Homo sapiens: one gene and its partner. The protein of the gene in region 1 purifies or fractionates together with the protein of each later gene. This does not show direct contact. Each region holds a gene or a part of one and is shown on either strand. Other genes may lie near its edges.

What was found.
Region 2: the proteins of BMPR1B (region 1) and IGSF1 purify together in Homo sapiens (affinity purification with western blotting, with the first as the bait; one study listed by BioGRID). This does not show direct contact.

What each region holds. Positions count from the first base shown.
Region 1 is NC_000004.12:95,145,795-95,149,617, reverse strand, and holds part of BMPR1B (bone morphogenetic protein receptor type-1B isoform b precursor), read right to left. Parts: intron 871-3,823; coding exon 695-870; intron 1-694. UniProt on the Homo sapiens protein: On ligand binding, forms a receptor complex consisting of two type II and two type I transmembrane serine/threonine kinases.
Region 2 is NC_000023.11:131,282,495-131,286,317, forward strand, and holds part of IGSF1 (immunoglobulin superfamily member 1 isoform 1 precursor), read right to left. Parts: intron 3,555-3,823; coding exon 3,273-3,554; intron 2,973-3,272; coding exon 2,685-2,972; coding exon of another isoform or gene 2,623-2,684; exon of another isoform or gene 1,672-2,622; intron 771-1,671; coding exon 486-770; intron 244-485; coding exon 1-243. UniProt on the Homo sapiens protein: Seems to be a coreceptor in inhibin signaling, but seems not to be a high-affinity inhibin receptor. Antagonizes activin A signaling in the presence or absence of inhibin B.

The DNA of each region.
Region 1 (3,823 bases):
TTGCCTAAAAGGTGTCAGAATTTACTCGAAGACAGACTGTAGAGCAATCAAAATAGTACAAGTAATAATACTTCTGAATATTTAAATATGTCTTCTTGTTCATTATAATTGTTTTTACTAGGGAATCCTCATATGTGTAGAAAAAACAATATAAAAAAATAATACTCTGATACTTTAATTTCCTTTTGATAAAAAACTGATGTTTTCAAATTGCTTTATGGGGAAGTTTTATAAAAAATACAGCAGGTAAGAAATGGGTGTCCGACCCCACATTTATGGCCTACTGTCATCTCTGCAGAGGAAATCCCAGGGAATGGAGTTGGGGATGGGGCCCAGCAGCTAGGTGAGAATAAACTGGCAGGGACAGAAAAGGGGGTTTGATTTCATCGAGCAACTGCTGGAGGAAGAACCCAAGACAGAAATAAGACAATACACAGAGCAGAAAACAGTGATGCTTGAAAAAGCAGGGTAGGCTGACAGTGTGTCTAGTGGCAGCTGGAGGAAGGAAGCAGTCAAAGATTATTCTAGGATGTCGAATATAATTTCCTGGAAGCACTATGACTGCATCAACAGAAATAAAGGGGAAAATAAAACCAGATCTTATAGACAGTATGATAACTTTGATTTCTGATCAGAAAGAAAGGATTTATAGTAGCTCCAATAGTAGCTTTTCAAAGACAGCACTGTTTCTTACCTCCTGATACACATCTCCTAGCAACCTCCCAAAGGATGAGGCCAAAACTATACATGTCAGCCATGATGTAAGACTGGAAGTGATTTCTGTTCAAGCTCTCGTCCAACACTTCTGGAGGCATATAGCGTTTGGTGCCAACTCGAGTGTTAGGTGGTATGTCAACTTCATTTGTATCACTAAGGAAAAAGTAAAGCAAAGCATTACAGCATTGAAGAGGACCAACAAAAACGAATCAAGGTGATTCTGAAACAATGGCTTTAGTTAGTGAAAAGTGGAAAAGAAAAACTTTCCAGGGAATAAAAACAATTTCTTAAAGAATATTTCTTGCCAAAAGCTATATTAAATATTTACAGGTTAAAAGCCAATGAAAGGCAAGCTGATACTGTGGTGCATGCCTGTAGGCCCAGCTATTCTGGAGGCTGAGGTGGAAGGATAGCTTGAGCCTAGAGGTTCAAGGCCTGACTGGGCAACATAGTGAGATGCCATCTCTTAAAAAAAGTTAGAAAAAAAAAACAATGAAGATAAAACTCAGTCAGAATGAAGCTGCAGCATTTAAAATTGCATTACCAATAGATCAAATTTATACCCTAAACAACTGCTAAATATATATTAAATATCTAAAAAAACCCTCTTCCTTCCCCTCCTATTTTAAAAACTTTACTCTTAAAATGGGCATGCACACATGACAATTTCATGTGAAACAGTATTTTTTAAGCCAGCTGTTGTAAAGCTCTTAGATCTATAAACAGGTTTCAAAAGGGGAGAAGGAGAGAACCAACAAAGACATGCAATTGTTTTACTCTGACAAGGTGGGACATATAAAAAAGCTTTCTGCTATCACTATTGTTTTATGAACCAAATAGCATTTAACTTTTTTTTTCAAAGGAAGAAAACAATAATGGAATATAACATCTTTAACTTTCTGAAAATTTTACAACAGGCCCATTTACTATTCCTTCCCATAGACTGGGAAAAGAGTAATGACGGAGGGACAACAACCTGCACACTGGCACTTGGGAACCATTGCTTCAGTGCGATGAGCTGGAGCCACAGTTCCAGCCCCTGTTCTAAGGGTGCTGAATGACTAGGCTGATGATTAAATGAGATGACATGTACAAGCCCTGCCAACATGGTACTAGGCACATATTAGATACTTAAGTACTGTAACTCATCAGAAAGTAAAGGAACTAGGTAGAAAAGTAACAAACCCTAGATATGACAGATGAACAGACTATAACCAAATAAGGTATACTATAAAACCAAAAAGGTACAGAAACTCATTATTAAGCTGAACTCTGTGGAAAATCTTGAATAAACCTTTCTACCTCCTGATTCCCAACAATTTTTTTTTTTGCTTTTGCTTTTCATTACACTCTATTGACTTTCAAGAATTTACATGTTATTTCTCCTCAGCCTGGAAAACAGATTCATTTATCGAATATCACACTTATCCTGCTGTCATAGATAGTCAATACCAAAACACTAGTGGCTTCAGGAAAAAAACAAAAATCAAAAACCTCTGGGTTTGATCTCATTGCCTTGACCACTTCTACAACATGAAATACATGGTGTCATTTTTTGTCATTTGAGAACATTTTAAGTGTCATTCTGAATATCTCAAAATTTTTACATTTACTAAAACATAAAATGCAAAACTTCATTTTAGAACATTTTAAAGTCACTTCCGGCTAGAATTCTTAATCTAAAATTTTATGTTTTAGATAAGATGACATATCAACAGATATGTCATCAGTGTACTCATTAGGCCCCTCGTGGTTTTCTAGGTGCAATAATAACTAGCCTGTTTTCTTAAATAAAAGTTAAGACGTTAAAAAAAAAGTTAAAGTGTAATTAAAAAACAAAACAGATGGTATTCTTTACCATATGCAAACATAGGTCCCAGTGTTCTGGGATCTTTTCTAAAACTGGAAAAAGAGGCTAAAATGTTAATTCTCAGCACTTATTGGTATAATAGAAAATTGTCATTTGTATGTGTAAATGATAAATGACAGGGGAGGAAAGTATGCTGAGAAGAGACTTAATGGTAAACTGGAAACATGTCAGATTGAATAGATGCTACAAAAGCTCCATTTCCATTTATAAAGCACGCTCTCCTCCTACTCCACCTGCTGACACCTCTCATGGGAGCAGAGTAGGGATTTCACTAATGTGGTGCCAGCATGTCCTAATTTTAATTTTTAATCATGAGGAAGATAGTGGTGACCCCAGGTAAGAAGTCCTGGGTCCCATGCAGAGAAAACAAACATGAGGGTTTGCAGATGAAAAGAAGATGGTTAAAGACCTCCACTGTATTCCAGAACAAGAAGAATCTTAAGACAATCCACACAGAAGGGCATTTAGAAAGGCCAAAGGTGTAATCTGACCACAGTTGATAAAGATTTTAGGCAATTTCATTCCATTCTTACTCTTAGCTCCTTAATGTTTATTTGGATTTGGGAGGTCAGGAAAAGATAATGGAATGTGTGATGTAGAGATATCTATTAGAAAAATGAAAGGTAATTGTGACCTAATAATAGAATTAAAATTTGTGACAGCTGGAGTATACATAGTTCATCTCTAAATTCTTTTTCTCAAACACTGCAAAAACATACACTCAAGGATTCTGAATGTCCACCAAATGCCAAAAATCAGTCCTTTACATAGTCCCTTAAATACATATGCATGTTCAGCAATAAGCCATCTCTCTCCTCCCCTTCCTCTCCCACCCTAGACGTTTGCCCTAGTAGTAGCTGAATAAATCTTCTCCCTAGTAACATTTGAGTAAGTAATCTGTTTTCCAACTGAAGACTATCAACTCCTCTGAGCCCCCAAATACTTGTCATAGTCATTTGGTATATCCCCAAAGAGCATAGCCCCAATCCTTCTCCATTCGCAGTGTGTCTTGCACATGACAGGAAAATAATGTACTTTAAATGAAAGAAGGAAAAGGTTTGTTTACACTAAACTTTGCTATGGATAATTTAAAGGGAAATGTAAAAATCTCTGGACTGCATGGGCCATAAAATGAGATCTTACCAATTTCTAGAAGGATAAATAGAATTTTGTTGAGCAAACTAATTTTGTGAAAGATCACTATCAACCTATTGGCAAGTGCCTTTAGCACTACAC
Region 2 (3,823 bases), on another chromosome or scaffold:
TCCAGGTGAGAAGATAGTGGCAGCTATAGATGCCAGTATCACTGTAGGTTACATTGTTGAGGAAGAATGATGTGTTGTCATCGATGCTGGTGGCATCCAAAAATTGAAGTGGTTTGTCTTCTCCTTTCTTATAGAGTGCAAGACCCACTCCATCCACTGGTCCTCGACACCGTAGGCTCACATTCTGACCCATTTGGACCACAGCACTGGGCCGAGCAAGTAGCCAGGTCTTGGGGAAAGTGTCTAGGATGAGACCCAGAATAAAAAGCACTAGTGATTTCACTTCCTGCTCCCACTCCTTAAGATTCTTTTCCTTCTCTTCCTCCAAACCACCCTTGGAAAAACCTGCCTACACCCAGTTTTACAAATTCTGCTCCCTTCTCTACTGTTAACCCTGGCCACAGGATTAGGTTCTCCAGGGAGCACAGAGGGAGATTTATATCCTTAGCCGTTAACCTAAGTTTCATGGCATACCCGTCTCTTACCAGTCACCCAGATTTTCAGGACATCACTAAGGAGTGAACCTCTATATGATGCGTCATAGTAAAAACAGAGGTAATGTCCAGTATCTTGGATCTTCAAAGACTGGAAGAAGAAATTTGCCTCATTTTTTATTGTCTTCTTGTGGTAAAAGGACTTCTCCAAGTCTTCAACCCTCATTAGAGCAAAGGTCATTCCATAGATTGGCCCTTGGCACCTGAGATTCAGGCTTTCTCCAGGTGCCATGATGGGCCCAGGATGGGCTGTCAAAGTTGGTTTGGGGTAGAGTCCTACAAACGGAAGAGACCCTAAAGTTAGAGGCAAGATGATTCTTTCCTGTTGTCTTCTGTTTTCTCTTTCTTAATTTCTTTGAACAAGAAGTGGTAGCTGAAGTTTACCTTCTCTTCCCTATCCCTTCCTTGGATCTCTGCCTCTGTAACATAATCAAGGGTAGATTCACTTATGCCCCTGTTCTCTCTCAAGAATCTGCCAGCTTCACTGAGCTCTAACCATGTGTAGGGGTGTATCTCAGTGGAAGATCTACATCTATAATTCCCTGTATCTTTAGGCCCCTGAAATGCCAAATGTAGTTCTTTCAACCACCAGAAAAACCAAACCTCTGAAAATAACATTGTTTTCATCTTTGCAGAGCATGAATGCCACTGAAATATTAAGGAGAGCTTTTGAATACATTAAGCTCATTTAAGACCCTACTTCTACAACAAGACTGAAAGAAGCCAATAAAGAGGGTTTGGCCAGTAAGTCTGCGACCCAAATAAATCTTTGTTATGGGGCCACACATTCCTTTCCATGAATTGTTTCTCCAAGGAGATTTTACATGAAAGTGAGGGCAAACCTCACCTCCTACCACTCCTTCCTACCCCCACCCCAATGCCAGGCACACTTATCTATTCATTAAGGAAGGATCAGCTCTGTCATATGCTCACTGAGCATTTAGTATGCATCAAGCGTCATGTAGGTCTAGGTGTGTATGAGTAAAGAAGACACAGTCTCCGCTAGCAAAAAGCTCATGAACTGGTTGGTGGGGGATATTGGTGAACAGGTAACTACGGAAGTGTATTTTAGTGGAATCTATGCTGAAAGGGCATGAGTACAACAAACATTCATACACTCAGTTCAAACAGGCAGTTTTTGTTCTTTGATCCTCAATAAAAAGCTATACTAACAAAATTAATATCTACCATTTATTGAGAACTTATATGCCAGGCACTGTACATATATATTTAGGCAAATCCTCACAACAACCCTGTGAGGTAGGCATTATTATTAAACCAATTTTGCAGATCAGGAAGCTGAGGCACAGAGAGAAGCATTACACAGTAGATCAGATAGATACTGTTATCCCATTTTTAGAGTAGAGGAAGCCAAAGCACAGAAAAGTGAAGTGACTTGCTCAAGACCACACAGGGAGGCAGTGTCAGAAATAGAACTAGAAACCAGTATTACTGCTTCTAAGTCTAGGGTACTTTCTGTAGCACCACAGCTTTCCCCAAGCCTATTTAGCTGGATAGAGAGACTAAAGCAAATGTGGCCAATTCCATCTAGAAACCTCCAGGCCATGGGGTGGGGGAGTTCGGGCTGGGACATGTCTGGCATTTTACATTTTGGGGAAATTTCTTCTATATTTAGAGATTGGTGCTGCCTTACTAGCTCTACTGATAGGGAACCAAGGTGATTTATAAAGCCATTTCTAAAATATGAGCTATCACATTCTTTGTCATTTGTTTTTTTTTGTTTTTACTCACCAACACTAGCAATCCATTCTGTTTTCCACACATAAAAATAACAATTACAAATAAAATACATTTGCAAATTTAAAACTCCATTTATAAGATTGCAGTGGCAGTGCCTGGCACATATTAGGTGCTCAATAAATACTGGTTGAATTAATGAATGAATGCATGATATTCAACAAGTTGAGAACAACAAAGCTGTGATGAGCTGAAGCTGCTGGCCAGTTGGCTGGGCTCCTTTACTAGCCAAATGATTGGCTCCCATACATCTGCCTTGCAGCACATGCCATTCTAATTTATATCTCAGTAAAACTTCAAACGACTGTAGCTCATGGGGCCTTGCAGGGCCTAGAAACTGGCTGAGGAAAGTAAAATCAGAAACCCTAGCTCAGCCAGCCATGATACCTGGGACAACAATTGCCAGATGCCAGCAGCCATAGCCACACCCACCTGCTACAACCAGCTTCAGGGGGTTGCTGGGCTCTGACCACAGGGTGGGGAGCATCTGGATATGAGTGCGGCAGATGTAAACCCCTTCATCCTCAGGTGTCAGGTTGTCAATGGAGAATATGGCCATTGTCCCAGTTGGGACTTGGTAATCCACAGGCTCTGCATATCCCTCTTTAAACAGCATGAATACCAAATCCTGCAGCCAGCCATGGCAGAGGATGTTAACATTACACCCAGGAAGAGCGGGGGTCTCAGCCTGAATCCAGAAGATGGGCTTGGGCAGTTGGCCTGGAAGGATAGAATGAACTGGAATTAGGTAAAGCAAGGATAGTACTGTCTAGGGAGCAGCAGAGGAGAGCTCTACTTTAATTGAGGTTTCCCTGTATGATCCTTGTTTGCCACCCCTCCTTCTCCTATCTCTGCTCCAGAGTCTGCATCCCCCCTCTGCATTGCCCAATACAAAGTAGGCCCTTATTTACTAACTGTGGGATGCATGCTTGCATGCATTTGTGAAACAAACTCTCCCCTGGAAGGCAAGTTTGAATCTCAGGAGCTGGAGTTGATTCTTGAGTATCACTGTCATCTTACCTGGTGCCTCCAACTCTAGAACTTTACTGGGCTTTGACCAGCCTGTCTCCTTCCAGTAGCAGCACCGGTAAAGACCTGCATTGGACTCAGTAAGGGCACCTATAAGGAATGAAACTTGGAAGGTCTTGTGGGAAGGGCGGATCCAGGTCATCTGTGTCTTATCCTTCAGCAGCAGGAACTTGCTTGATATCCGAGAGGGGCTTCGGCACCAAAGCGTGATGTTCTCCCAAGGGGCCTGGGGGTAGTTGGACTCTATCCACAACTCTGGTTGAGGGTCCATCACTGTTATTCCCAAAGATCAAAAAGATATGAGCAGTCCAACCCTCTCCCTCCCATAACATGTCCCACAATGTCCCTTAAAATTAGCCCGGACCCAGATCCCTCATTTTGTCTTCCCTTGGGGACAGGAGTGTGCTCCTGTGGGGCATCGTATAAGAACCCCAAGATATTTTGTCAAGGGGTCCAAATGAATTGGAGAATAAAGTCTGATGGTCTCTTTTCCATCTGAGATAAAGCTTTTTCACCATGCCATAGGAAACCAAGTCCTCTGA